Regions from separate parts of the Homo sapiens genome. Here all the other regions are linked to region 1. Evidence: fine-mapped expression QTL. A gene starts in region 1. Each other region holds a variant in brackets. All regions are shown on one strand. Distances are between the middles of the regions. Region 1 holds the start of PCCB (propionyl-CoA carboxylase subunit beta). Region 2 overlaps PCCB (propionyl-CoA carboxylase subunit beta). Region 3 overlaps STAG1 (STAG1 cohesin complex component). Region 4 overlaps PPP2R3A (protein phosphatase 2 regulatory subunit B''alpha). Region 5 overlaps STAG1 (STAG1 cohesin complex component).

The links. PIP is the estimated chance that this variant, and not a neighbour inherited with it, causes the effect. A credible set is the group of variants that fine-mapping cannot tell apart.
Region 2: its variant is the best candidate, but not a certain one, in a credible set for the expression of PCCB in whole blood (INTERVAL, PIP 0.86).
Region 3: its variant is the best candidate, but not a certain one, in a credible set for the expression of PCCB in whole blood (INTERVAL, PIP 0.78).
Region 4: its variant is the best candidate, but not a certain one, in a credible set for the expression of PCCB in monocytes after LPS (Fairfax 2014, PIP 0.69).
Region 5: its variant is the best candidate, but not a certain one, in a credible set for the expression of PCCB in whole blood (INTERVAL, PIP 0.73).

What each region holds. Positions count from the first base shown.
Region 1 is chr3:136,246,951-136,253,411 of GRCh38, reverse strand. PCCB (propionyl-CoA carboxylase subunit beta) reads right to left here and starts at 3,072. Exons shown (of 15, transcript NM_000532.5): 1 at 2,854-3,072. The coding sequence starts at 3,036. RefSeq lists enhancers at 2,598-2,647, 3,278-3,337, 2,567-3,433.
Region 2 is chr3:136,270,848-136,277,308 of GRCh38, reverse strand. All of the region lies in intron 5 of PCCB (propionyl-CoA carboxylase subunit beta), which reads right to left. Among named protein-coding and RNA genes, the nearest start is that of PCCB, 24 kb to the right of the region's middle. The variant T/G (reference allele first, on the strand shown) is at 2,552.
Region 3 is chr3:136,431,807-136,436,806 of GRCh38, reverse strand. It overlaps STAG1 (STAG1 cohesin complex component), which reads left to right. Exons shown (of 34, transcript NM_005862.3): 16 at 3,148-3,251. Among named protein-coding and RNA genes, the nearest start is that of PCCB, 180 kb to the right of the region's middle. The variant A/G (reference allele first, on the strand shown) is at 2,181.
Region 4 is chr3:136,133,246-136,139,706 of GRCh38, reverse strand. All of the region lies in intron 13 of PPP2R3A (protein phosphatase 2 regulatory subunit B''alpha), which reads right to left. Among named protein-coding and RNA genes, the nearest start is that of MSL2, 60 kb to the left of the region's middle. The variant ATATATATAATTTTTTTTTT/T (reference allele first, on the strand shown) is at 3,624.
Region 5 is chr3:136,559,522-136,564,521 of GRCh38, reverse strand. The region is part of intron 5 of STAG1 (STAG1 cohesin complex component); the gene reads left to right. Among named protein-coding and RNA genes, the nearest start is that of STAG1, 190 kb to the left of the region's middle. The variant AG/G (reference allele first, on the strand shown) is at 2,255.

The sequences.
Region 1 (6,461 bases):
CCCTGTCTTAAGAAAAAAAAAGAGGCCATGTGCAGTGGCTCACGCCTGTAATCCCAACACTTTGGGAGGCCGAGGCAGACGGATCACGAGGTCAGGAGATCGAGACCATCCTGGCTAACATGGTGAAACCCCGTCTATACTAAAACTCCAAAATTATAGCCAGGTGTGGTGGTGGGCACCCGTAGTCCCAGCTACTCAGGAGGCTGAGGCAGGAGAACGGCATGAACCCGGGAGGCGGAGCTTGCAGTGAGCCAAGACCGCGCCACTGCACTCCAGCCTGGGTGACAGAGCAAGACTCTATCTTAAAAAAAAAAAAAAAAAAAAAAAAACCTCCATTGCTTGGACTCCCAAGCTCTCAACCCGAGGCAAATACCCTAGCCTACTGTCCTATCCCCCCCTCCCCGAAAAAAACAAAAACAAACAAAAAATACCTCAAATTGGCTATTATTTTCCCCTTAGGAAAGTAGCCAAAGCTGGTGAGGTTGCATTTAAAAAAAAAAAAACAAAACAAAAAACAGGCAATCCTATACACTGTCATGTAAAGTAGAGTAAGTTTTCAGGAAACCAATTTGGCAACATATATACAGATTTTTAAAATATATTTATACTGACCAGGCACTGCGGCTCACACCTGTAATCCCAGCACTTTGGAAGGCCAAGGTGGGAGGACTGCTTGAGCCCAGGAGTTGAGACCAGCCTGGGCAACAAAGCGAGACCCTGTCTCTACCAAAAAAAAAAAAAAAAAAAAATTAGCTGGGTAGGAGGCTGAAGTGGAAGGATCACTGGAGCCCAGAAGGTCAAGGATGCAGTGAGCCATGATTACACCACTGCCCTCCAGCCTGGGTGACAGAGTAAGACCCTGTCTCAAGGAAAAAAAAAAAAAAATTCTGTCATCCCAGCACTTTGGGAGGCAGACGCGGGTGGATCACCTGAGGTCAGGAGTTCAAGACCAGCCTGGCCAACATGGTGAAACTCCATCTCTACTAAAAATACAAAAATTAGCCAGATGTGGTGACACATACCTGTAACCCCAGGTACTCTGGAGGCTGAGGCAGGAGAATTGCTTGAAGCTGGGAAGCAGAAGTTGCAGTGAGCTGCTGCACTCTAGCCTGGGCAACAGAGTGAACTCTGTCTCAAAAAAAATAAATAAACTTACACCCTTTGACCCACTAATTCCTCTTCTGGGAAAATCTACGGAAATGGTCAAAAATTGTTTTAAAAGGGGTGCAGGGCCGGGTGCAGTGGCTCACACCCATAATCCCAACACTTTGGGACGCCAAGGTGGGTGAATCACTTGAGGTCAGGCGTACAAGACCGGCCTGGCCAACATGGTGAAACCCTGTCTCTGCTAAAAATACAAAAAAAAAGTTGCCAGGCATGGTCGTGGGCACCTGTAATCCCAGCTACTTGGGAGGCTGAGGCAGGAGAATAGCTTGAACCTGGGAGGCAGAGGTTGCAATGAGCCAAGATCGCACCATGGCACTCCAGCCTGGGCAACAAGAGCAAAACTCCGTATCAAAACATAAAAATAAAAAGGGGTGCAGGAGGGGGTTCATATTAAATCAGCCTCCTAAGTTAACTTTGGCAAAAGAAAAACAGCTTCTGGAGGCTTCATCTAAACCTAGTAGGATCTACCTGGGAAAGGGCTAGGCGATGTTCCAGGGAAGAATTGAGCAATAGGCCCCAACAGAAAGAGTGTACAGGAGCACTGACAGGCCTTTCCAGAGGATGATCTAACATCTCCCTCAGCCCTAACAGAGTAGGTTAGAAGTAGCCCCAGGGGAGAGAAAGCACTCCTAGCACCACAAACCATCACTAAATTTACATTTCACTCTCAAGTGTCAAAAGGAACTGTTACCTTTGGACCCTTGTCAAATGCGAATTTATGACATCTGAATCAATATTAGACAAATATAGAGCTGTTCAAATCTCCTCACTTTAAGACCCCATCCCTCCCCCAGTGCCTCCCTCATGGTTGTGAGTTGTGCCTGAATACTCTTCATCTGTAAGAGTTTCACTTCTGCACCTTCCCGTTGGTTAATTCGTTCAGCACAACGGTCCAGACTCACCCACCAGTCACGGACACACTGGGCAAGCCTGGTTTCAAGTCAGGGATCACCTCTCCAAAATGGGCCGCCCAGCTTATCTCTGAAGGCCAGCTGGATTCTCGCCTCAAAACCCAGGCGGTGGGTGGCAGTGTTTCAACTGCTCAGTCCAGCCAAACATCGAGAGTAGCCTGCGCACTCCCAGAAAGGCCACCTGCTTCCGACACGTGCCTTTGCTACCCATCAAGGCGAGGCATGCTAAGGCCCTAAAGAGCTCGACCAGGCATTCTGCGGGCAGAAGTTCCACAAGTTCCTGCACGCGCACATCCCCCATTTCATGTTAGTGGAGTATGCCCAAGTTCAGTTTTCCTGCTTCCACAAAGGAGAAAGAACCTACCATCACTCTTTCATGGGGCACGAGAATAAGCACATGGTTTTTACTGAGCGCCTATCATTTTGCTATCTATGGTCTAACGATACACTTGTGAAGGAAGAATTATTATTAAAATGACCCACAGAGATTTAATAAGTTGCCCAAAAGCTTATGTTAAGTGTTGAGCTGGCTAGAGACGAGCCAGATCCGTCTAAATCCCAAGGGTTAAACAGTATGAAAAAGCACACAGGTGCTTCTGCTGGTTATACCCGCCTCCACGAGAAACGCTACAGGTTTTCAAGGTGAACACCCTTGCTCCGGCCCCTCCAGGCACCGTGCGGATTGGCAGGGAGGCCTCGGACGCCGCAAGCCGGGCACGCAGTGATAGGTCGCGGACGCCAGGGGCGGGACTCACTTAGGCCCCTCAGGACTCACTCGCTTGTGCTGCGCGTCAATACGGCGTTGGCCCCCTCCCAGCAGCGCGGTCCGGCGCTTGTTTTCGATGCGTTCGTTAACAGAGGTGGCCTGGCTGCAAAGGCTGCGGACCGCGGCGCGGAGACCGCTCGCCAGAACGCTGAGCCTTGCCCCGACCGCCGCCACCCGTAATGCCGCCGCCATTTTTGCTGTGCCGGCGCGTCCCCTACCGGCGCACCTGAGTACGCATGTGCTAAAGCGTGGGTACGGCGCTTGCGCAGCATCGGCTGGCTGTAGGGAGCCGCGGGGGCTGGACTACAGAACCTGCTTGGGAGTAAGGCGTGAGAGTTCGAGACCCGGTGCTGCCCGAGGAGGGTCGCGCAGAGAAAAAGTACAGGGCCTGCCTGGCTGCACAAAAAAGGGACATAGTCCTTGCTCTTCTCTGACCACCTAGACCCTTAACTTTGTCGTCCCACTTCCTACAGAAAATGATTATAAGATTTAACCAACATTTATTAAGCATTGTGCCAGGTGTTGCTTTTTGCACTTACCATGCACTAGCTTACTATCTGGATTTCACAGATGAGGTAAATCAAGCACAGAGAGATGAGTGATTTGATCAAGAGGCAAGACTGAGGCCGAGGTAGGTGAGCCCAGGAGCCCAAGACCAGCCTGAGCAATATAGTAAGACCCCACCTCTACAAAAAAATTAAAAATTAGCTGGGCATGGCGGCTTGCACCTGTGACCCCAGCTACTCGGGAGGCTAAGGCGGCAGGATGGCTTGGCCCAGGAAGTCGAGGCTGCAGTGAGCCGTGATTGCATCACTGCACTCCAGCCTGGGCAAAACCCTGTCTCAAAAAAAAAAAAAAAAAAAAGCCAAGACTGACAATGTGGTTGGCCAGGATTCAAACTCAGAGACCTATCATTAATATGTGCCAGATAATGAGCACAGGACCCTTAACCTCTAATCAGTAGTTCTCAAAGTATGGATCCCATTAAAGAAAAAACTATTCATGACACTTAATTATTCATGTTTAAGAATGGTAAGGCAAACTTTATTCAGGCCCAATCTGACAGAGGTAGGGATAGAGTTTTGCCATAAGTCAGAGCGATTGGGCTGAATATAGCAAAGTGGTAATTTATAGCTAAGGGGCAGTGTGTGGAAGTCAGTGGATGGAAAATTACTAAGAGGAAACATTGGCGGGGAATCTGGCTAAATTGACCTAACAGGATTCCTGCCCAAGGCAGGTCAGGGTAACTGAACATCACCTGGGGGATGGTGGCGGTATGGGTCAAAACCAGATATGGAGAGTAATCAGATATCAAGAATGGAGGATTCTGGCTAAACTGACTTGGCAAGTTTCTTGCTAAAATGGAATTCCACAAGGAATGACATGGGAGCCCACACTCAGGCCTAGTCAAAGAGAGAGCTCAGAAGAGCCTGACCAATGTTTGATCAAGGAGGGAATCTTGTCAATCCAGCAACTTCAGTATCACCTGGGAGTGAGTTGGAAATGCAAGCTCGAATTCTCAGAACTTACTCCAGACCTTTAAATCAGAAACTCTGGGGCTGGGGCCAGCCATCTGTTTTAGCAGATGACCTTTAGGTGATTCTGATCTGCTTGCTAAAGTTTAAGAACCACTGCTCTAGGAATTTGGAATTGTACTGTTGAGAGCTTGACCATCTGTTTCTCCCACTAACAGGCAGGTCTTCAAGACAAAGAACATGGTTTATATTTCTCATTTTTAGCCACAGAAAACTGCTAAAGTTGATCATGAGCCCTTCCCAGATCCAGCTCATAGCCAGGGCCTTCATAAAGTACAAATTCTGACCTATGACCTTAATGTTAATGCAATTCAACTCAGAAAACATTTTTGAGCACCTACCATGTGCCAAGAACTAAACATCAGTACTGATTGCATTTCCTGGAGTAGTAACAGTTCATCTAGATAGAGAGGGCAGCTTAGAGGCCAAAGCCTCTTGGCTAGGCAAAGCCCACCTGTATCTGTATAACTCCGTAATGGGTACTCTTGACCTTGCATTTGGGTCCTTGCTTTAAAGACTTTACCAACCTAGAGAGGCAGATGGACAACCTAGAGAGGCAGATTGCCTTGGGAGCACAAGAGAGAATTTGAGTAAGGCTGAGTGTGTTGAGGAGAGTTTCTCCAAGAAAGCATCCATATGCCAGGGAACAGAAGCAGTGTGAGCAAAGGCCTGGCATGTTCAGATTCACATACACAGACACACACACATACTTTGTTGTGTTCCCAGCTTTTGGGGAAATGGTGGTAAATGAGACTGGAAAGTGAGAATGGCATTAGATTGTGAAGAGTTTTTTCATGTTCAGAAATTGGGACTTGCTTTTGGCCTGGGGGCAGTTGGACTCCCTTGTCCCACAGTGCCTTGTAGGTTCCTTACATAAAGCACATCTCACACTGTGTTAAGATTGTTTAGCTGTCTTCCTAGACAGACTCTCCAGCCAAAGGTCAGGGACTGCAGCTGATTTGCTCACCACTGTGGTCCCAGCACCTGGAACAAGGCCCAACGCAGAGAAGGCCTTTAGAATGTATTTGTGAAATTGAATCGAGCTAGCAAATAGGCAATTGCATGTGAGTCCAGAGGTTTTCGCCCCCTCCTCTATGTCTTTTCAGGCTCTGAAACCTGCTCAGGTATCATCTCCTCCATGCAGTCTATCCTGATCCTCAGAAGCAAGGAAGTTTTTCTTATTTAACTTTAGATAACCAGTGCTTAGTAGAAAACCCAACACAGGGAGGCTCACTGAACCTAACTGCTTCCTCCAGCTAGTCCTCTCTCCCTCCACTTCTTTCTCACTGTCCTAATGCCCTGCCTATGGGCACTCCATAGTTCTATAGATCTGTAATGTTATTCCTCAGACCTCACATGCAAGCTCCAGCTTGGGGCAGGTGGGTGGGGGTAGGAGGAAGTTGGAGGTAGGAGGCAATTATCCAGTAATTGCCCTTTAATACCACTATGCTCCAGGCTGCTTTCCTGTCCTTAGTCCCCCCGCTGGTGGCTGTGTTTGAGTTTTTTTCTCCATTGTGAGACAGGAGTCACCCTGATCTTTTAGTTTTCTCACTTTCTGAGACAGTAGAGCTGAAAATTTGGAGTCAACACCTGGGTACAAATCTTGCTTCTGCCCTGACTTCCTGGATAACACAGGGTCATTCACCTAAGGATCTCAGTTTCCTCTGTAAAAGTGGAGAGGGGGTGATCTGTGAAACCCTTGTGTTCTGAGTTTGTTACCCATGACATAATAACAAGAGCCCAGTCATTGGTGTTAGACTGTCCTGAGGTTAGTTCCAACTCTGCCAGTTACCTCTGTGTGACTTGGACAACTTGGCCTCAGTTTCCTCTTCTGTAAAATTGGAATAATAATAGTTCTACCTCAGAGTTGTAAGGTTTATTTTTATTTATTTATTTATTTATTTTTGAGACAGGGTCTTGCTCTGTCACTCAGGCTGGAGTGCAGTGGCTCAATCTTGGCTCACTGCAACCTCCCCATCCCAGGTTAAAGCGATTCTCCTGCCTCAGCCTCCCAAGTAGCTGGGATTACAGGCGTGTGCCACCACGCCCGGCTAATTTTTTTGTATTTTTTGGTAGAGATGG
Region 2 (6,461 bases), 24 kb before region 1:
ACTGTGAACAGAAAGGAGAAAACCAGTGCATGACCTAAGCTATCATCATTGCCTGCAAAACCCTGGCTAACCAGGAGGTCCTGCATCTGTCCACGTGACCAGTTCACTACTATTATAACCAGCATTCGAGAAAGCCAGCACACTAAGGCTTTCTGTAACCAAGGAACCTCAAAGAGTCTACCTCACTCACCTGACACTCCCATCAGCACTAGTGTTGGTATATCCCTTGCTGGGAGACTTGAGGACAGGTCCCATTACCGGATCCCTTGCAGACATTCCCCAGCACCAGCCTGGAGTTGGGCAGCCCCACTGGGTGGCTAGACCCAGAAGAATAGCAATCAACTTATCCTGGCTCTCAGGAATTCTTACTCCTAAGGGAAGGAGGAGACCACCACACCAAGGGAATACCCCATGGGACAAAAGAATTCAGATGGCAGGCCTTGAGTTCCAGATCTTTCCACTGATGGGAAGTTCCTTTCAGCAGAGACACAATTGCAGTGCTGGGCTCAGAAGGGAAAGTCTGCAGCTCTACCCCAACAATCAGGCAGCTTTGCTGCTCATGAAGGGTCCTGGAGAAGGTATCTTCTCTCCCACCTTGTCCACCACTACACAGACACAGTTGGGGCTTCTCCACAGGAGCTTGGCAAAGGTGAACCTATAGACAGCCTTCCTGGAACACTACAGAGTGACTGCATCTCCACAGGAGGAATCCCCCAACCCCCACCCCCGCCCTGGCCCAAGTTCAGGCTTGCAAGAGAGGCAGAGTCACAAATTCCTCTCTGTGTGGAACAACAACAGTCCTACAGATGAAAAGAGATGCCTGTCTGATCCGAATAGCTGGAACACTAGGGCAGGAGCGAGTCTGGGAGGTGAATAGCTTTCCTACTGGCCTGGCAAAGGAGCTGAGGTGGCTCCCACCCTTCCCCTTGATAAGACCTCAGTGCATCTAATTGAGAGTTCCCCCAGCCACTTTCATCAAGGGTGGAACCTCTCTGCCTTACTGAGTATTGCATTTACCCATTTGCTTTAGCCACAACTGGTTCCTACCCAGGGACAGCTCCCCTACTGGCCTGAAGCCTTAACCATCAACTTAGTAAATAAAATACAGGGGAAAAATTAAATAAATAAAAAAGCACACACCACAGGGGAATGAGATGAGCTTCAAGAGACCTTTCCATCTCAACCCCATAGGAGACAGTGAACTTGCCCACACATCAAGTACATATCTATTAAATACAGGCCAGGGGCAGTGGCTCACGCCTGTAATCCCAACACTTTGGGAGGCCAAGGCAGGTGGATCACCTGAGGTCAGGAGTTTGTGACCAGCCTGGCCAACATCCTGAAACCCCGTCTCTACTAAAAATACAAAAATTAGCCAGGCGTAGTGGTGCACACCTGTAGTCCCAGCTACTCGGGAAGCTGAGGCAGGAGAATCACTTGAACCCGGGAAGTGGAGGTTGCAGTGAGCCAAGATTGTGCCACTGCACTCCAGCCTGAGTGACAGAGCGAGACGCCATCTCAACAAAAATAAATAAATAAATAAATAAATACAACCAGCATCTAAAGAAGCCATCATACAAAGACTCTCTATAGCCAAGGAACTCATACAGTCTTCCCCCTAAAAGCATTAAGAATCACATTAGGCTATAATAAACTATAAACACTAAAGTCACATCCTTAGTGAAGAGGAAAAAGAAACTTAAAAAAACCACAGCCAAATCAAAAATAAATTCAAGAACAATTAGAAGAAATACTCTACACAAACGAGAAAGAACCAGAAAAGTAATTTTGGTATAAGACAAAACAGGGTTCTATCATACCCCCGAAAGATCACACTAGCTCCCCAGCAATGGATCCAAACTAAAACGAAATATTTGAAATAATCAGATAAATAATTCAGTAGGTTGATTATTAAGCTACTCAAGGAGACACCATAGAAAGGTGAAAACCAACATAAAAAAAAAACTTAAAAAACAATTCAGAATATGAAGGAAAAATTTTCTACATAGATATCATAAAGAAAAAACAATCAGAATTTCCGGAAATGAAACACACTTAGGGAAATACAAAATGCAATGGAAAGTTTCAACAATAGACCAGAACAAGTCAAAGAATGAATTTCAGAGCTCCAAGACAAGGCTTTCAAATTAACCCAATCAGACAAAAATAAAGAAAAAAGAATCAAAAGAAATAAATAGGCTGGGGTCAGTGTCTCATGCCTATAATCCTAGCACTTTGGGAGGGCAAGGCAGGTGGACTGCTTGAGCCCAGACTTTGAGACCAGCCTGAGCAACATAGCAAATTTCCATCTCTACAAAAAAAACATAAAAATTAGCCGGGAGTGGTGGCATGTGCCTGTAGTCCCAGATACTCAGGAGGCAGAGGTGTGAGGATTGCCTGAGCCCAGGAGACAAAGGTCACAACACTGTACTACAGCCTGGGCAACAGAGTAAGACCCTATCTCAAGAAAGAAAAAAAAAAAAAGAAAGAAGAAATGAACAAAGCTTCCAAGAAATATGGGATTATGTAAAACAACCAAACCTAAAAATAC[T/G]TGGTGGTCCTGAGGGAGAAGAGAAGGCTAAAAGTTTAGAAAACTTATTTGAGAGAATCATTGAGGAAAACTTCCCTGGCCTTGCCTGAGATTTCAATATCCAAATGCAAGAAGCTCAAAGAACTCCTGGGAAATTCATTGCAAAAAGATTATCACCAAGGCACATAGTCATCGGGCTATCTAAAGTCAACATGAAGGAAAGAATCCTAAGAGCTATGAGACAAAAGCATCAGGTAACCTATAAAGGAAAACCAATCAGACTAACAGCAGATTTCTCAGCAGAAACCTTACAAGCTAGAAGGGATTGGGGTTCTATCTTTAGCCTCCTTAAACAGAATAACTGCCACCCAAGAATTTTGCATCCAGCAAAACTAAGTTTCCTAAATGAAGGAGAGATAAAGCCATTTTCAGATAAACAAATGCCGAGGGAATCTGCCACTACCAAACCAGCATTACTCTTCAGAAGAGTTCTACATCTTGAAACAAAAGCTCAATATGCACCAAAATAAAACCTCTTGAAAGATAAAACCCACAAGGCCTATAAAACAATAACACAATGAAAAAAAAACAAAGTAAGTAACAACTAAAATGATAAACAGATCAGTATCTCACATCTCAATATTAATGTTGAACGTAAATGGCCTAAATGATCCACTTAGATACAGAATGGCAGAATGGATTTTTAAAAAATCACAAACCAAATATCTGCTGTCTTCAAGAGAGTCATCTAACACATAAGGATTCATATAACCTCAAGGTAAAGGGGGGGAAAGAGATATCCCATGCAAATGGGAACCAAAAGCAAGCAGAATGAGCTATTCTTTTTTTTTTTTTTTTTTTTTTTTTGAGACAGAGTCTCCCTCTGTCACCCAGACTGGAGTGCAGTGGTGCAACCTCGGCTCACTGCAAACTCCGCCTCCTGGGTTCACGCCATTCTCCTGCCTCAGCCTCACAAGTAGCTGGGACTACAGGCACCCGCCACCACGCCCGGCTAATTTTTTGTATTTTCAGTAGAGACAGGGTTTCACCGTGTTAGCCAGGATGGTCTCGATCTCCTGACCTCGCGATCCGCCCGTCTTGGCCTCGCAAAGTAGCTATTCTTATATCAGACAAAATAGACCTTTAAAGCAACAACAGTAAAAAAAAAAAAAAAAAAAAAAGAAAAAAGAAAAAAAAAAAGAAAGAAAAAGAAGGTCATTATATAATAAAAGGAACAATCCAACAAAAAGATATTATAATCCTGAATTCATATTCACCTAATACTGGAGCTCCCAGATTTATAAAACAATTACTACTAGACCTAGGAAATGAAATAGCAACAAAGTGAAATGGGGGACCTCGATACTCCACTGACAGCACTAGACTCTTTTTGTTGAGACAGAAACTCAACAAAGAAGCAATGGACTTAAAGTATACCCTAGAACAAATGGACTTAACAGATATTTACAGAACATTCTACCAAACAACTGCAGAATATACATTCTTCTCCTCAACACATGGAACATTCTCCAAGATAGACTGTATGACAGGCCACAAAACAAGTCTCAACAAATTTAAGAAAATTGAAATCATATCAAGTATCTTCTCAGACTACAGTGGAACAAAACTAGAAACAACTCCAAAAGAAATGCTCAAAACTATACAAATACATGGAAATTAAATAATCTGCTCCTGAATAATTTCTGGGTTAACAATAAATCAAGATAAAAATTTAAAAATTTGAAATGAATGATAGTAGTGACACAGTTATAAAAACCTCTGGGGATACAGCAAAAGTAGTGCTAAGAGGAAAGTTCATAGTTTTAAGTACATACATCAAAAAGTCTGAAAGAACACAAACTGACAATCTACTGTCTCACCTCAATGAACCAGAGAAACAGGTACGAACTAAACCCAATGCCAGCAGAAGAAATAACAAAGATCAGAGCAGAACTAAAGGAAATTGAAGCAAAAAATAAAACAAAAACTTGGTTCCTTGAAAAAATAAACAAAATTGGTCGACCATTAGACTAACCAAGAAGAGAATAGATCCAAATAAGCTCAATGAAAAATGAAACTGGAAATATTATAACCAATATCATAGAAATACAAAAGATCACTCAAGACTAACATGAACATCTTTACACACACAAACTGAAAAATCTAGAGGAAATGGATAAACTCGTGGAAACATACAATCCTCTAAATCAGGAAGAAACAGAAACCCTGAACAGACCAAAAACAAGCAGTGAGACTGAATCAGTAATTTTAAACTGCCAACAACAAAAAAGCCCAGGACCAGATGGATCACAGTTGAATTCCACTAGATATTCAAAGAATTGGTACCAATCCTACTGAAACTATTCCAAAAGATTGAGAAAGAGGGAATCCTTCCTAAATCATTCTATGAAGCCAGTATCACCCTAATACCAAAGCCAGGAAATGACATTAAAAAAAGAAAACTACAGACCAGTGTCTCTGATAAACATGGATGCAAAAATCCTCAACAAAATACTAGCTAACCAAATCCCACAGCACATCAAAAAGATAATACAACATGATCAAGTGAGTTTCATCCCAGAGATGCAGGGATGGTTTAACATATGCAAGTCAATAAATGTGATAAATCCCGTAAACAGAATTTAAAACAAAAACCATATGATCATCTCAATTGCATGCAGAAAAAGCATGCAATAAAATCCAGCATCTCTTTATGACAAAAAACTCTCAAACTAGGCATAGGAGGGATATACTTCAAAATAGTAAAAGCAATATATGATAAACCCACAGCCAACATCGTAATGAATGGGGAAAAGTTGAAAGCATTCCCCCTGAAAACTGGAACAAGACAAGGATGCCCACTTTCACCACTTCTATTCAACATAGTACTGGAAGTCCTATCCAGAGCAATTGGGCAAGAGAAAGAAATAAAGGGCATCCAAATTGGAAAAGAGGAAGTCAAACAAGTACTGTTTATCAGTGATATGATCATATATACTTGGAAAACTCTAGCGACTCATCCAAAAGACTCCTAGATCTGATAAAGGAATTCAGTAAAGTCTTAGGTTACAAAATTAATATAGACAAATAAATAGCTCTGCTATACACCAACAATAACCAAAGTGACAATCAAATCAAGAACTCAATTCCTTTTACAACAGCTGCAAAAAATAAAATAAAATACCTAGGAATATACCTAACCAAGGAGGTGAAGATCTCTACAAGTGAAACTACAAAACGCTGCTGAAAGAAACTATACATGACACAAACAAATGAAAACACATCTCATGCTCATGGAGGTAAGAATCAATATTGTGAAAACGATCATATGGCCCAAAGCAATCTACAGATTCAATGCAATTCCCATCAAAACACTACCATTACCATCATCATTTTTCACAGAACTAGAAAATACAATCCTAAAATTTATATGGAACCAAAAAAGAGTCCAGATAGCCAAAGCAATACTAAGCAAAAAGAACAAATCTGAAGGCATCACATTACCAGACTTCCAAGACTTAAATCTAAGACCTGAAACCATAAAAATTCTGCAACATTGGAAAAACTCTTCTGAACACTGGCCCAGGCAAAAAATCCATGACTAAGACCCCAAAAGCTAATGCAACAAAAACAAAAATAAATGGGACCTAATTAAACTAAAAAGCTTCTGCACAGCAAAAGAAGTAATCAGCAAAGAGCCAACTCACAGAGCTGGAGAAAATATTTGCAAACTATGCACCTGACAAAGGACCAGTATGCAGAATCTACAAGGAACTCAAATCAGCAAGAAAAAATAATCCCATCAAAAAGTAGGCAAAGGACATGAATAGACATTTCTCAAAAGAAGATATACAAATGGCCAACAAACATGAAACAAAATGCTCACATCACTATCAGGAAAATGCAAATGAAAACCACAATGAGATACCAC
Region 3 (5,000 bases), 180 kb before region 1:
GAACAAGATGTTGTATCTTTTTTGCCTTTTCTTTGATTTTGCTCCAACTTAGTTTAAAATAATCAATGTAAACTTTTAAACCTTTGTAAATTAATTGAATTCTTAAATTTATACCTAGTTCTGTGTCTATAATACCTACATCTACTGGTCTTCAATATAAATAAGTATACAGAGGGAAGGAGAAAGAAAGAACTAAACTATTCGAATTATCAAAATCTGAGTTTAAGGCTGGGCACAGGGGCTCACACCTGTAATCTAGCACTTTGGGAGGCCGACGTGGGTGGATCACTTGAGCTCAGGAGTTCGAGACCAGCCAGGCCAACATGGTGAAACCCTGTCTCTACTAAAAGTACAAAAATTAGCTGGGCGTGGTGGTACATGCCTGTAATCCCAGCTACTCAGGAGGCTGAGGCAGGAGAATCACTTGAACCTAGGAGGCAGAGGTTGCAGTGAGCCGAGATCACGCCACTGTACTCCAGCCTGGGTGACAGAGTGAGACTCCACTTCCAAAAAAACCAAAAATATCTGAGTTTAAAAATATGTAAGAATGAGGCCAGGCGTGGTGGCTCATGCTTGGAATCTCAGCACTTTGAGAGGCTGAGGCCGGTGGATCACTTGAGGTCAGGAGTTTGAGACCAGCCTGGCCATCATGGTGAAACCCCGACTCTCCTAAAAATACAAAAATTAGCCGGGTGTGGTGGCACACCTGTAATCCCAGCTACTTAGGAGGCTGAAGCAGGAGAATCCTTTGAACCTGGGAGGCGGAGGTTGCAGTGAGCTGAGATCACGCCATTGCCTTCTGGCCTGGGCGATGGAGCAAGACTGTCTCAAAAAAAACAGGCTGGGTGCAGTGGCTCACACCTGTAATCCCCGTGCTTTGGTAGGCCAAGACGGGTGGATCACGAGGTCAGGGGTTCAAGACCAGCATGGCCAAGATGGTGAAACCCCGTCTCTACTAAAACTACAAAAATCAGCCAGGGGCGGTGGCAGCCACCTGTAATCCCAGCTACTAGGGAGGCTGAGGCAGGAGAATCACTGGAACCTGGGCGGCAGAGGTTGCAGTGAGCCAAGATAGCCTCACTGCACTCCAGCCTGGGTGACACGAGTGAAATGCCGTCTCAAAAAAAAAGAAAAAAAGAATTCGGGAAAGTATAGAATCTATGTGAAGGAAACCATAGTTTTAATTAAATGACTTAAGATCTCAAAACTGAAAAGCTATATTGTATTTCTAGCTGAAAATGTCATTTTTTTTAATGGTACTAGTCATAATTCCAGTGGGTTTGAGAGAGTTCTGGGAGATATGGTGAATACGAACTAACTAAGCAAAATGATTTTAAAGTTTATGTAGAATTCTAAGCTTATGCTGAAAAGACAGTATAGCGTAGTGCTTAAGAGAACTGACTCTGGGGTCAAACTACCTGAGTTCATATATTTGAATGCTCTACTGCTAGCTAAGTGCATTTTTCTGTGGCTCATTCTCCCTGTCTGTGAAGTGAGGATATTAGTTCCTATCTCTTAGAAATGTTTTGTGGATAAAACAAGTTATTACATATAAGCCACTTATGATCGTGCTTTAGATATAGAAAATTCTTAATAAATGAATTGCTATTAGCGTTATAGAAATTAAACAAAATTTTAGAAAAAGGGCTAGATAAGGGAAACTTGCTTATATATTCAAGTTGGTTGAATTAAGTTACATATTAAGTTATAACAAATTATGCCATAAGTCTAGTATAATCAAAGCAGTAAAGCATTGTCATAGAAATATACAAATAGATTAGTGAAACTAAAGAATCCAAAAATGCCTGAACCATGTTTAAAAATGACATTTAAATTAAAAAGGGAAATCTGGTTTAACAGTGGTGGAGACAACTGGCTATTTGGTGGGAATAAACAGACCCACCTACTATCATCAGAAATAAATGCCAAATAGGTTAAAAATACAAAAGTGAGCAAGCAAGAGAGACAGAAAAAGTGAAAGGAAGGAAGAGCAAAAGAGCAAGCAAGCACACGAGACAGCAAAAGATGAAATAAATTAGAAGAAAATGAAGAACATATTAGTGTAATCTGCAGGACAGAGAGATCTTTGAAGGCAATACAAGAAACCTGGAAGCCATAAAACAAAAGGAGACAGACGTGGCTTTTTAAAAATTAACAATTTCTGTCTGACAGAAGATACC[A/G]TGAAGAGTCTGATAACAAATGACAAACTGGGAGAAAATACTTGCATCATTCAAAAGATAAAAAGTACTACCCCTACCATACAAGAGTTCTCAGATTGATAAGAAAGGTGAATAGTAGCACAAAAACAGGTGAAGAATAAACATAGACAAATCTTAGGGAAAAATAGAAAATATATTCCACTTAACTAATTAGTAGATAGGAAGGAGCAAAATAATAACCAAATACCCCTTTTCAACCATTGGACTGGCAAAAATTAAAATGGTTTATAACATCTAGTGTTCACAGGGATATAAGGAACCAAACATTCATAACATTGCAGTTGGGGATATAAATTATAATAAATAATCTTATGATTTCTCAATATCAAGGTCTTGCCATTTGAATCCATTATTTCTTCTTTGGAGAATTTATTGTACAGAAATAAATGTATCAGTTACATAAATATATATCTATTAATGATGTTTATTGAAGCATTGTTCAGTGTCAAAAATCAGGAAATTATTTGAATGACCATAAGTAGAAGGCTGACTGAATTATGGTACATACGTTAGATAGTAATTTATTAAGATAATTATTATGTGTGTATTGACTTGAAAAATATTGTCTGTTAAGTTTTTAAAAACATACGGCATAGTCTTTTTCATTAAAAAAGAAAAATTAGGAGTTTTGAAATTATGTAGAAGGAAACACTGTGAAATTTTAGAATTGCCTAACTTAGAAAGGTAGCATTAGAAGAGACCAGAGTTTATCCTCTTATTCTTTACTTTGTATCTCTTTCCTATTTGACTTATGACAGCAAGCACATAATTACTTTAAAAAAAAAAATAGCAAAGTACAGAGCTTAACTTTAGTCTTTAAAATAAGCAGTAATAGAATGTTTTCAGTTTTTTTAATAATGTGTTCATTTTTAATACATGGTTGTTGTAAAACTGTCTACTCATGCTCATGTATTTTGTTTTACCTTAGCAATGTCTGATCGTCAAGAGAGTGCTCTTATAGAGCTAATGGTTTGTACAATTCGTCAAGCTGCTGAGGCACATCCTCCAGTGGGAAGGGGTACCGGCAAGAGAGTAAGTTACATTAGTGAGAAATCTCCTAAAAGGTTTTTAATGGCAATTAACTGTCTTAAATATTTGGAAATTTTACTGATATTTGTATCCCTAAAAACATGGTGTTTTTATAAATGATGGACTATGGTGCTTCATCTTTATATCCTATATGCTATACTCAGGTTCCAAAAATAGATTCTTTCCTTCATGCTCCCATAGCACCTGTACCTGCTTCTGTTATTGTACTTACGTATTTTATATATATATATATTTTAAGGATTTTTACGTCTATTAAAAGTACATAAAGGCTCTGGAAGCAAAATGCCTAGTTTGCAAGTTCTTCTATTTAGCAGCTATATAATCTTTAGATAGATGAATGATTTTTGTATGTCTTAGTTTCCTTATCTGTAATATGGGACTAGTAATACAGGTATTTATATTAAAGATGAGTTCAGATAATCATAGATGGAGAGACTCCTGGCTCTGTTGGTTTGAAGAGGTAGGCAGATCTTTCTGCAAAAAGCAAGTATAAAACTGGAATGTATTGTCAAAAACATTACATCAGGGCTCTGGAAATTCACCAAAGATTAAAAAAAAAACACACATTGGGAAATATTTTTTCCTGAAAAATTGATAGAGCTTCAGGTAAAAGCAGCGGAAGTCTGTGGCCTTCTTGCCAATACACATGTACCCACATGCTTGGTCGATAAGATCTGTAGTTTGTTACCAGAGTGGCACTGCGTGCAAAAACCAGAAGCTTTGTTGTCAGAGAGAATGGATTAAGTGGCTCATGCCTGTAATCCTAGCACTTATGAGGCCTAGGTGGGGGATTACTTGAAGTCAGGAGTTCAAGACCAGCCTGGCCAACATAGTGAAACCCCGTCTCTACTAAAAATACAAAAATGAGCTGGGCAGGGTGGCATGCACCTGTAGTTCCAGCTACTCGAGAGGCTGAAGCAGGAGAATCACTTGAACCCAGAGGCAGAGGTTGCAGGGAGCCCAGATCATGCCACTGCTCTCCAGCCTGGGTGACAGAGCAAGACTCTGTGCCCCCCCCCCCCCAAAAAAAAAGAAAACAAAAATTAAAATCTTTAGTTACTGTATTATTCAAAAATGTCTACTTTCAAGAAAAACTACAGCCATGCAAAGAAACAGTAAAATGTGACCATACTCAGGAAAAAAAGCAGACAATAGAAATGGCTTCTCAGTAGGGCTATATGTTGGATTTAGCAGGCAAAGACTTCAGAGGCCTTTTAATAAGTATATTCAAAGAATTACAGGAAAATATGAAAACAAGAAGTAGAGAATCTCAATAATGAAAACCCAAATGGAATTTCTGGTGAGAAGTACAATGCACAAATTTAAAATTAACTGAGTAAGTTAATTAGCAGATTTAAGATGATGAAAGAGACAATAGAAAAACATGAAGATTAATAGAAATTATCCATTCTGAAGAACAGAGAAGAAAAAAGATTGAAGAAATACTATCAGAGCCTCAGAAATGTGTGGAACCACCATCATGTGCACTGAAATATGTATAATGGGAATCCCAGAAGGAAAGGAGAGAGGAATAGAGGCAGAAAAAATATTTGAAGAAATAATCACTGAAAACCTCCCAAATTTGATGAGAGACAATTTGCAGATTCAAGAAGCTTAACAAAATCCAAATAAAATAAACACAAAAGTTCCACATATAGACACAACATAGTCACATTGTTAAAAGACAAAGACAAAAAATCTTGAAAGCAACAAGAGATCAACAACTAATGT
Region 4 (6,461 bases), 110 kb after region 1:
TTTTTTTTTTTTTTTGAGATGGAGTCTCGCTCTGTCACCAGGCTGGAGGGCAGTGGCGTGATCTCGGCTCACTGCAACCTCTGCCTCCGAGGTTCAAGCGATTCTCCTGCCTCAGCCACGTGAGTAGTTGGGATTACAGGCACATAACACCATGCCCAGCTAACTTTTGTATTTTTAGTAGAGATGGGGTTTCACCATGTTGGCTAGGATGGCCTCGATCTCCTGACCTCATGATCCCCCCCCTCGGCCTCCCAAAGGGCTGGGAGTACAGGTGTGAACCACCGCACCTAGCCTGAGAACAAATTCTCTAACATAGTTTTGTTAGCATGAGGGGATATGGTGGTTCATGTAATTTGGCCAGCAACACCACTGCCTTTAGAAACTTACTTCCCTAAGTAAGTCTTCCCTTTCAGATGAGCAGTTTCTGGGCAAAAGCATTAAGGCGGGCTCTGCAGATTCCTGGGATGGAAATATAAAAGTTGGAATGAGCAGAGATAATGACTGGGACATAAATTGTTTGACAAAGGATTGTATGCAGTTTCAGGGTGTTGTCTGGGAGTTATGTTTTGATTCCAGTTTCCAGGATTCTGACTATTTACAGGGACAAAGGAATAGAATATTTGATTCAGGGATTATCTGGGCATATCTAAGACACATGGTACCTATAGGCATAGAATAAAATGTTCAATATTTTGGCCTGGCATGGTGACTCATGCCTGTAATCCCAGCACTTTGGGGGAGGCCAATGTGGGCAGATCACCTGAGGTTGGGAGTTCGAGACCAGCCTGACCAACATGGAGAAACCCTGTCTCTACTAAAAATACAAAATTAGCTGGGCGTGGTGGTGCATGCCTGTAATCCCAGCTACTCGGGAGGCTGAGGCAGGAGAATCGCTTGAACCTGGGAGGTGGAGGTTGCTGTGAGCTGAGATTGTGCCACTGCACTCCAGCCTGGATGACAAGAGCGAAACTGTCTCAAAAAAAAAAAAAAAAAAAAAAAAAAAAAAAAAAATTCAATATTTCTCTAGTTTGGAGTCTATAATGCTTCAGAAATACAAGTGTGTGATTTATCTTTATACTTTTAAGTTAAAAATAGATATCCTAAGCCACTTATATAAAATGGATTAGCTGAAATTTTGGAAGTTGGATATTTGGTTCACTGAATTTCCTTAACCCATCCAGTGACCAGAAAATCTTTAGTTTCAACTCTTGTTGAAGTTTCCTAATATGTACCACTTGCTTTCCTGTCCCAGGAAGTAGATTTCACTTCAGTTTTGATGGTTAAAGGAACTCTTGCAGTTCTTCAGAATCATGAGCTATCAACTGTTAATTCTTACTCATTGTGGATGTAGACAGCATAAAAATGTGGGCTAAATATATTCTAATTATGAACTGGAAGGACGCGGTCTGAATTCATGTTTATTACCAAGCACAGTGCCTGGCATAGAGTAGGTACCAGTAAATATCTGTTGAAATAAATTAAAATTGGGCTTTGATATGGTTCGTTCAATGTGGAAAAAAATAAAACATTAACTTCAGGCCCACGTAGAGGCTCTGTTTATTAAGCATTAAAAAATAATTCTAAACTCATATATCTGTAATATTATAACTCATGTTTTAGAATATTAATTCATGTCATTCCTTCTTTTTCTTTCCCTATACCCTAATATATACACACAAGCCTCCATTCTCCCTGTTTCCCTGTTCCTCTCCTACATTCTCCCACCTCACTGAGGAGAGTTGGGCTTCATACTTCTCACTAGTTACATTCCTGGACGATTGCTCTAATGGGTTTCTGGCTGGCTTTCTTTACCTATAGTGCCTTAGTTTCCAGTGCTGATGGATGTAAATGTAGATCTCTGACAGAGGCCGGGCGCGGTGGCTCACGCCTGTAATCCCAGCACTTTGGGAGGCCCAGGTGGGCGGATCACGAGGTCAGGAGATCGAGATCGTCCTGGCTAACACGGTGAAACCCCGTCTCTACTAAAAATACAAAAAATTAGCCGGGTGTGCTTGCAGGCGCCTGTAGTCCCAGCTACTCGGTAGGCTGAGCCAGGAGAATGGCCTGAACCTGGGAGGCGGAGCTTGCAGTGAGCGGAGATCGCGCTACTGCACTCCAGCCTAGGCGACAGAGCGAGCCTCCATCTCAAAAAAAAAAAAAAAAAAAAAAAAATCTCTGACAGAGTAATTCATATATTTTTAATATAAAGGAAAAAGCTGCCTTTAAAAACATTCAATAGAAAACAGTTCTAATCTGCCCAAATGTCCAATAATAGGGAAATGGATGTGAGTTACTGCTTGAGAACACTGAAGCACTAAAATTCCTGTTTTTGAACACATTAGTAACAAGTGTTAAAAAGAAATATACCAAGTATAAAATAATGGTTATCCCTGGATCATTGAACCAAGAGTGATTTTAATCTCTTTATATTTTCCATTTTTTCAAGTATTAGTCAAATTGGCAGAAAAGCTTGTTTCTGATTATTGAGGGTCTCAGTTTCTTAGGATAGTAACATGGAAGACCCTTTAGCCTTCTTTACATAATTTCTGTGGTGTTTTTAATGTACTCCATTGCATAAACCATAAGAATGTTAATTATAAATATGGTATCATAACCTGTTATCTTCATATAGGTAACACATTTAGTTGACTTGGATTAAGTAACTGGTACCCTGTCTTTCTGGCTTCTCTTACGAGGGTTGAGTTTATATAAATGCTGTTGTATGCTGTGATCACTTTGTGTGCTAGACATGTTAATTTGCAATGTTTACAGCCTCATACTTACGGAAGCTTTGGTCTTGCTTCACCTCACTGAGACCTGCAGTGATTACGAGGTTACTTACTGAAGACATTACATAAGTACCAGTCTTGAAATCAGGAGGTACAGATGCTTAGCACAATGGCTACCTGTGATTGTTGTTAGATGGTAAAGTAGGTGGAGGATTTTAAGTTGTTTTTGGAGGGCCAAATCATCTGGACTACTGTAGATATCCTTGTAGTGAGGGTGGCTGCTGTATTGCTGTGGTCTGTGCCTTTCAGTAAACATTTGCTGAGGACCTCCTACGTAACAGTTTGCCAGGTGCTGGGACTACAAGACTAAGAAAACGTTCTTGGCCCCTGAGGAGCTCACAATCTAATGGTAAAACAAATAGCTCCATTTTTTTTTAGCATTAATATACCAGACACTGTTAGATTCATTATATACATTATCTCTTAATTCTCAGTACAATCCTGCTGTTCATGCAACAGATATTTACTGTGTCAAGCAGTAAAATGTGCCCTAGGAGTGAAGGGAACAAGATAAGGGATAGAATGCTAATGTTACAGCTGAATAAACTCTACTTCAGAGAGGTTAGGTAATGTGATCACAAAAGTGGTAGCAATAAATAGCCATTGTTTATTGATTACACAGACACTATGCCTAAGGGCCTTATATTATATACACTGTCTTATTTAATCCTTAAAACAGCTCAGTGTGCCAAGTCGTACCCTTATTTTTATAGAGGATGCTGAGGCTTGGATGCCTGAGATTACACAGCTTGTGTGATAAAGCAAGGATTTGAAGTTAGGTTCGTCTAACTTCAAATTTCATGCTCTTAACCATGATGTTTTTTATATATATAT[ATATATATAATTTTTTTTTT/T]TTTTTTTTTTTTTTTTTTGAGACGGAGTCTTGCTCTGTTGCCCAGGCTGGAGTGCAATGGCATGATCACAGCTCACTGCAACCTCCACCTCCTTCCTAGGTTCATTCAAATGATCCTCCCGCCCCAGCCTCCCAAGTAGCTGGGATTATAGGCACACATCACCACGCCCAGCTAACTTTTAGTAGAGATGGGGTTTTGCCATGTTGGCCAGGCAGGTCTCGAACTCCTGGCCTCATCTGCCTGCCTCGGCCTCCCAAAGTGTTGAGATTACAGGCGTGAGCCACTGCAGTGGGCCCATGATGTTACATTGTATTTCTCCTATATGGAGTAGTAATAGCTACTATTTATCATGAGCCATGTGCCAGGTGTTTACATATAATATCTTAGATTCTCACAACCACCTCAGGAAGTGGATGCTGATGCCTTCTGAAACTGAGCCTCAGGAGTCAAGTAACCTGCCCAGCTGGTGAGTGGACCAGATCTGTCTGGCTCCTAAGCCTCTGGTCTTTCTGTGGTACTAACATTCCTCCCTTTCTGATACCTGAGTCTGGCAATTTCTGTTTGACAATTAGACTCTCCCTGACATATCTGTGATTCTTTCTTGAGATGAAACCCTAGTTGATTTAGCCTTGGGAATTTAGGTCTGGCCTTGCTTTTGCACGAGTTGGTCAGTTGTTATTCCTGTAAACGGGCTTTTTCCTTTCCTTTCCTTTGTTCACATTCTAGTGCTTGCTCTATAGACTGTGGCTGTTGTAAGCCTCCTTGCCCCTTGGGACCTCATAACCCACATGTGTTCTGTGTAGGCCTTATCTTATCTCCCACAACAGAAGTGGGGTATCCAGCAAGCAGCAAGAGCCTCTCATATACAACGGTTGAATTTCACTCCAGCTGGTCTCTGCGTCTCCTCTTGTGACCCCTCCTCACCTGTGCTTCTGTCTGCAACCCCCTGCCTCCTCTTTCTTCCTTCCACTGGCACGTTCTCTCAGTGCTACCACAACTTGAAAAAAACTTTCGCTTGAGCCAATTATTTATTCTCTTTAGATGCCACTAGTTTCTCTTTTCAGATGAACATGTCTATTTGTTTAGATCTGCTATCTATTTCTTCTTCCTTTAAAGCAGGTTATAAAACAATAGTAATATTTTTTGTAAAATACATGATCTAGTTGCACAGAAATGTATAGAAGGGTATACTCCAAAGTGATAAAACAGCCTGTCTTTGGGTGGTGAATTTTAGGTGTAGATTTTTGTTTATATTCTAACTCTTCTGCAATGAACATGTATTACCTATATAAACAGATAAAGGAGAAAAATAATTTTTTCCCATTTGTTAAAGTAATACAGTACACGCTCATTACATGAACCTTTATAAATTATAGAACAGTATAAAAAACCAAATTACTTGCAATTCCACAGCCCAGAGTTAATGACTGTTAATATTTTGGGGTGTTATCTTTTAGCTTGTGTATATACATACACACATTTTAAGTACTGAGATTATATCACAATTTTGTAATCTGGATTTTTCTATGAAATTAAAAATTTTCAAGTACATTTCAATAGCTGCATGTTATGACACAGATACCATGACTTATTTAACCATTCTATATTGAACATTTGTGTTGCTTTGAATTTATTTTAGAATTACCTGTGACCAGTGCCAATTGTTTAGATTACACAATTCTATCCAAATTTCTGATTATTTACAATAGATACTCAGAATTACTATCAGGGAGTCAAAGGGCATAAATTCAAGTTGTTGCTACATATTGTCAAATTACTTTCCAGGGACACTGGGGCAATATGCTTTTACCAGCAATGTTTGAAAGTGCGTGTCTTCCTGCAGTAAGCCTAGAGTGAGGTGTTTCTGCAATTTGTTTCTTCTATGAGACAGCAGTGAAGACACTATATTTTAACTGCATCTGTCTGTCTTCCCATCCTGTCTTGCATTTGCCAGTATCCAATAATGCTTAATATACAGTAGTAATGCAAACATTTATTGAATATTATCCTTAAAACTTATGTTTTAAAAATTGCTGCCAATTTAATAAGCTGAAGTTTTTTGGCTCTTGCTTTTTTAAAAACAGCTTTATTTAGGTTAATTTACATACCATAGATTTTACCAATTTTAAGTGTTCAGTGCATTTTAGTAAATTTCTTTTTTTTTTTTTTTTTTGAGATGGAGTTTCACTCTTGTTCCCCAGGCTGGAGTGCAATGGCACAATCTCAGCTCACCATCATATGGTGGAATGTTATAAAAAATACATATATTTAAAAATATATATATATACATATTTATTTTTGTCCTTGCTTGAAAGTCTCTCATGAAAAGATGTATTTTGCTTTATCAGTTCACCAGTTTGATGGACATGTGGATTATTTCCAGTTTTGAGCTACTAGGAATAATGCTGTTATGAACACTGGGTGAGCTTTTCTCTTAGGTAGATTTCTAGGAGTGAGATTATTGATTCATAAGCCAAATGTATGTTTAACTTTTTAAGAAACTGCCAAACTTTTCTAAAGAAGCTGTATAGTTTTACATCCTTACCAGCCCAATGTATGAGAGTTTTGGTTTCTCCACATTACTGCCAACTGGTGATTTTAGTTGTTCAAGTGGCTGTGTAGTATATCTCACTGAGGTTTTAATTTGCAATTTCCTAATGTCTAATAATACAGAACATCTTTTCATACACTTATTTACTGTTTGTACCTCCTTTTTAGTGTGTATTCACATGTTCTATTTAAAAAATTGAGATATTAGTCTTTTTGTTATTTAGAGTTCTTTACATATTCTGGATATGAGTTCTTTATCAGAATGTTT
Region 5 (5,000 bases), 310 kb before region 1:
TAGAACATATGAAAAGAAAACATTTTTTACTTATTACAAAAGGGATTTACTAATTAAAACTATACTTAGTTACCATTTCTTTTTACCTATCAGATTGGCACAAGTTTAAAATCATAACAACATTCTGTTGTTCAGGCTGTGGCGGGGGAAAGCAGACACTGTTACATTGTTGGTTAGAATACAAATTGATAAACTCTTTTGTAAAGGTATCCAGGAATATCTACCAAATCTATATTTATGTCTTATCTGTTGACTCAACCATCCTACTTCTGGGATTTTACCTTGAATATATACCTTCAGCAGTAAGAAAATAGGTACACAAAATTAATGCAACATTATTTGTTACTGGAAAATATTGGAAACAATCCAAATGTTCATATATAAGACAGTGATTGAATGAACTATAGGATAGCCACATGTTGGAGTTTTGTGCTACTGTAAAAAAGAATGAGGAAGATGTCTGTGAATGGAAGTAGGGATTTTCCCTGTATTTTTTTTTTCGAGACAGTCTTATTCTGTCACCCAGGCTGGAGTGCGGTGGTGCGATCTCGGCTCACTGCAACCTCCGCCGCCTGGGTTCAAGCAGTTCTCCTGCCTCAGCCTCCCGAGTAGCTGGGATTACAGACACGCACCACCATGCCCAGCTAAAGTTTTTTTGTATTTTTAGTAGAGATGGGGTTTCACCGTGTTGATCAGGCTGGTCTTGAACTCCTGACCTCATGATCCACCCGCCTTGGCCTCCTAAAGTGCTGGGATTACAGGCATGAGCCACCGTGCCCGGCCTTTCTCTGGATATGTTTTTAGGGCAAAATACAAATTGCAGAATAATATCTACAGTATGCAACTTTGTTGTTGTTGTTTTTTTTTTTTTTTTGTAAGAAAGAAGGGAATATAAGGGTTCATTTCACCAAAAAGAAATACAGGAAAGAAAAACCTGACGGTAACGAGATTGGTTACCTAAAGAGCGAGAGAGAGAGAGAGAGAGTTTGTGCGTGCGTGCGTGTGTGTGTGTCGGAAAGTTTAGAGGGAATTGAGGTGAGGGAATGATACTGAATTTGAATATAGTTTTATAGTTTTTGAATAGTCCTGACTTTTGGAGCTATCTTAATATTTCAAATCCCCAAGAAAACAAAATCAACAAAGATGGAGGGAGAATATCCTAAAAATGAATACAAACAGAACAAATAACCTTTACACCATAATAACAACCACACTGAAAGGTGTAAAATTACTAACCAACGTAACTTGGGAACTCAGTAAGTGGGCTGTGAAACTAGTGGGGTCGGGGAGAAGTTTGATGAAGAGCACAATATTTACCCAGTCTCAAAATGTCTCCTTTCAAGATATCTACTATTTACAGGGTAAAATAGAAACTTTGCAATGTAGAAACTTGATAGATAGCACCTTAACAAATGATAAAAGCAAACATTGCAAGTTACGGAGCTAATTGCTATCATGTGCTTTCTGATATGCCCTTAGAAGAACTCAACATCACTTCTGTGATATTCTTGCCAGAAGTGCATAGTCTGAATCTACTCATGAAGAAACATAAGACAAGCTTGAATTGAGTTATATTCTTCAAAACAACTATCCTGTACTCTGCAAAAAAGTCAGTGTCATGAAATAGTCAGAAATGCTGGGCGTCGTGACTCACACCTGTAATCCCAGCACTTTGGGAGGCTGAGGCGGGCAGATCACCTGAGGTCAGGAGTTCAAGACCAGCCTGGCCAGTGTAGTGAAACCCCATCTCTACTAAGAATACAAAAATTAGCTGGGCATGGTGATAGGCGCCTGCAATCCCAGCTACTTGGGAGGCTGAGGCAGGAGAATCACTTGAACCCAGGAGACAGAGGTTGCAATGAGCCAAGATCACACCATTGCACTCCTGCCTGGGCAACAGGAGCAAAACTCTGTCTCAAAAAAAGAAAAAAAGAAATGACTCAAACTGTTCTAGCTTAAAGTAGAGTAAAGAAACATGACAGGTGGCTGCAGTGCATGATCTTAGAATTTCTTTGGGCAGATTTCCTGAGGTCAGGAGTTCAAGACCAGCCTGGTCAATGTGGTGAAACCCCGTCTCTACTAAAAATACAAAAATTAGCCGGGCGTGGTGGTGGGTGCCCGTAATCCCAGCTGCTTGGGAGGCTGAGGCAGGAGAATCGCGTGAGCCCAGGAGGCGGAGGTTGCAGTGAGCTGAGATTACACCATTGCACTCCAGGCTGGGCAACAGGAGCGAAACTCTGTCTAAAAAAAAAAA[AG/G]AAAAAGAAATGACTCAGAAACTGTTTAAAGTAGACTGAAGAAATGTGACAGGTGGCTGCAGTGCATGATCTTAGAATTTCTTTTGGCATAAAGGACGTTATTGAGACACGTGAAATCTTAATTAGTTCTGTGGATTAGAACATACATGTAGTATCAATTGTTATATCTTATGCTTTGGAACATTGTACTATACTGTGGTTGTATAATAGGTTTATTTGGGGGAAATACACACTGAAATATTAAAGAGTAAAGGAATATCATGTCTGTAGCTAAACACTTATTCAGAACAAATGCATCTGTATATGAAGAGTGAAAGAAGGATAAAACGGATGTAAATGTTTACATCTGAAGAATTTGGGTGGAAGGTATTCAGAAGTTCTTTGTACTTTGCTGTCTTTTCTGTAAATCTAAAATTATGTCAAAGTACAAAAATGAAAAAAAAAAAAAATGTTTTAACCCCAAAGCCAGCGTCATGCTCAAGGGAAATCAGTAGTCATTGTCACTGTCAAGACAAGGATACCCAGCCTCACAATTCTTATTTAACATTATATTGGATATGCAAGCCAACACATTTGGACAATAAAAAGTAATTATGATCACTGTTTTTAAAATGATGTTATTCAAAATAATATAGCATGTTTAGAAAACTCAGGAGAATCAGTTTGCAAAACTATTATAAGCAATAAAATAATTCCATAATATATTGAGATACAGAATTTATAGAGAAAAATTACTATCCTACAGCCAGTTAGAAGATTTAAAGACCTCCTTTTCAAGACAAAAGTGAGGGGGAAAATTCTTTCAGATTTACATTTCACTGTGATGGTGTAAACCAGGATAAATTTCCAGTGCATCAAGAGTTTAAGGGCAAAAACAAACAACAAATACAAAGAAAAATAGTAAAAGCACTCAATGAAAACTAAGAATTCCTTTATAACCACGGAGTGGGGAAGACCTTTTTATTAACTGACTCACAATTAACTGACTCAAAATCTATAAGTTAGCAAAGACTCATAAATGACATAAGAAAACAAAAAATTTGTAAGATGGAGACACATTATAGGGAAAGTCAAACGACAAGGGACAAGTGGGGGAAATTTTTTTGTATTACAAAGGCTGCTATCTCTAATATATGTTGAGATAAGATTTGCATTTTATAAGGACTCCTTGTCTTGCACATTAATATCCAAAATCTAGATTGGCATTTTACTGTGTGAGCCCATTTTCCCCTAAAGCTGCGTAAGAACCAAGGACCAAAAGAGTGTTTTAAAAATTGACCTGAAGTGGGAAGAGAGCAAGGAAAGGCAGGAAAAAAAAAAATCACAATTCGCCCCGTCCCCACCCAAGTTCCCGGCTAGAAGTGGTATCACCAACAATGACAGAACAAAGTGAAACATCTTCTCATGAGTGAATAGTATGAACAACTCCTCCTTCATTGGCTCCAGTATCCCTATTATCACTATTTTCTCATCTTGGCTCTTGAGCCAAGCCCTAAGGTGCAGTATTGGTTTTCTAATTTAGCTATCTCAAGTTGCATTAGCACCCATAGTTGTTTTTCTAACTCTGCTGAAACGTCTGTAGTCTCTTCATTTGAACCAGCTGGAGTGAATTCTGTTTACCATTGGAAACCTCAGAATTGGCTAACTCAATATGTAGTAGTAATAGATATATTCAGTATCAATGAAGTGGGAAAAATGCAAAGGTAAAGTTGATTTAAACACTGTTGACTTAGAGTTGCATTCTAAAGCTATGTAAATTCATAAGTGTTTATTGGAATAAGTTATGAGAGAACTAAGAACACAGAATTATAGCATGTATTCAGGGAATTATGCATAGCAAAATGAAGATATGTTCTCCATATATTCAAAGTATACCTTGTTGATACACGTACATATTTACTTTGGTATGTACTTAAACATAACTAATTTCAGAAATATATGGTTTTTGATAAGTAGTTTTCATTGACAGATGTGCCTATTTTTAATAAGGGTTGTTGATCAAACTTGAAAGTTGGTGGTTAAAAGCAACCTTCTTTCTTAGTTGAATATAACAAGGAATGTTTCTATTTTGCTCTGTTTGTGCCTAACAGAGAAGTTCCGGATGCCTCAGGGCTTTCTAGGAGTGCAGAATTGCCAGAGAATTAATCACCTAGGAGCACTTAATCTAAGAGTTCCTGAACTTAACCCAGTTCGCTGGCTAATTAGCATCTCAGTGATTTTTTCATGGCACCTGTAAGCCAAAAGAAATACCTAACATTCTTTTCAGGAAGTTGTTATGTCCAAACTATTTATTTAGGTCCTCACAACTTAGTAGCCATTTAGAAAATGACATACATAATTGAAAAAAATTGTATTCATGTCTCAAATAACTGCAGTTACTTACTAATGTGTGTACAGATGTGTTGGGCATTGTATAGCTTCTCACATTTTGAAATTATCTTCATTTCCTGTTTTATATTGGTTTTTTGATAGCCCTTGTTGAAACTCAGCCTCTCAAAGATAGGGCATTATCAACAGGAATAAAGGACCAGATGTTGAGATTGCAAGTTGCCTCATGCTAATAGTTCCTGTGGTACTTGACAAATATCAAATATTGTATTGTTTTCCTTTGAATATTTAAAATATCCACATTACCCATATCATTTTGTGTGAGTCCCTCAGGACATCTCAGTGCACAGTTTGGGCACCATGGCTTTAACAAGTGACTGACCGGGAGTTAGTGTATAAATACCCCAATTCCTTTGC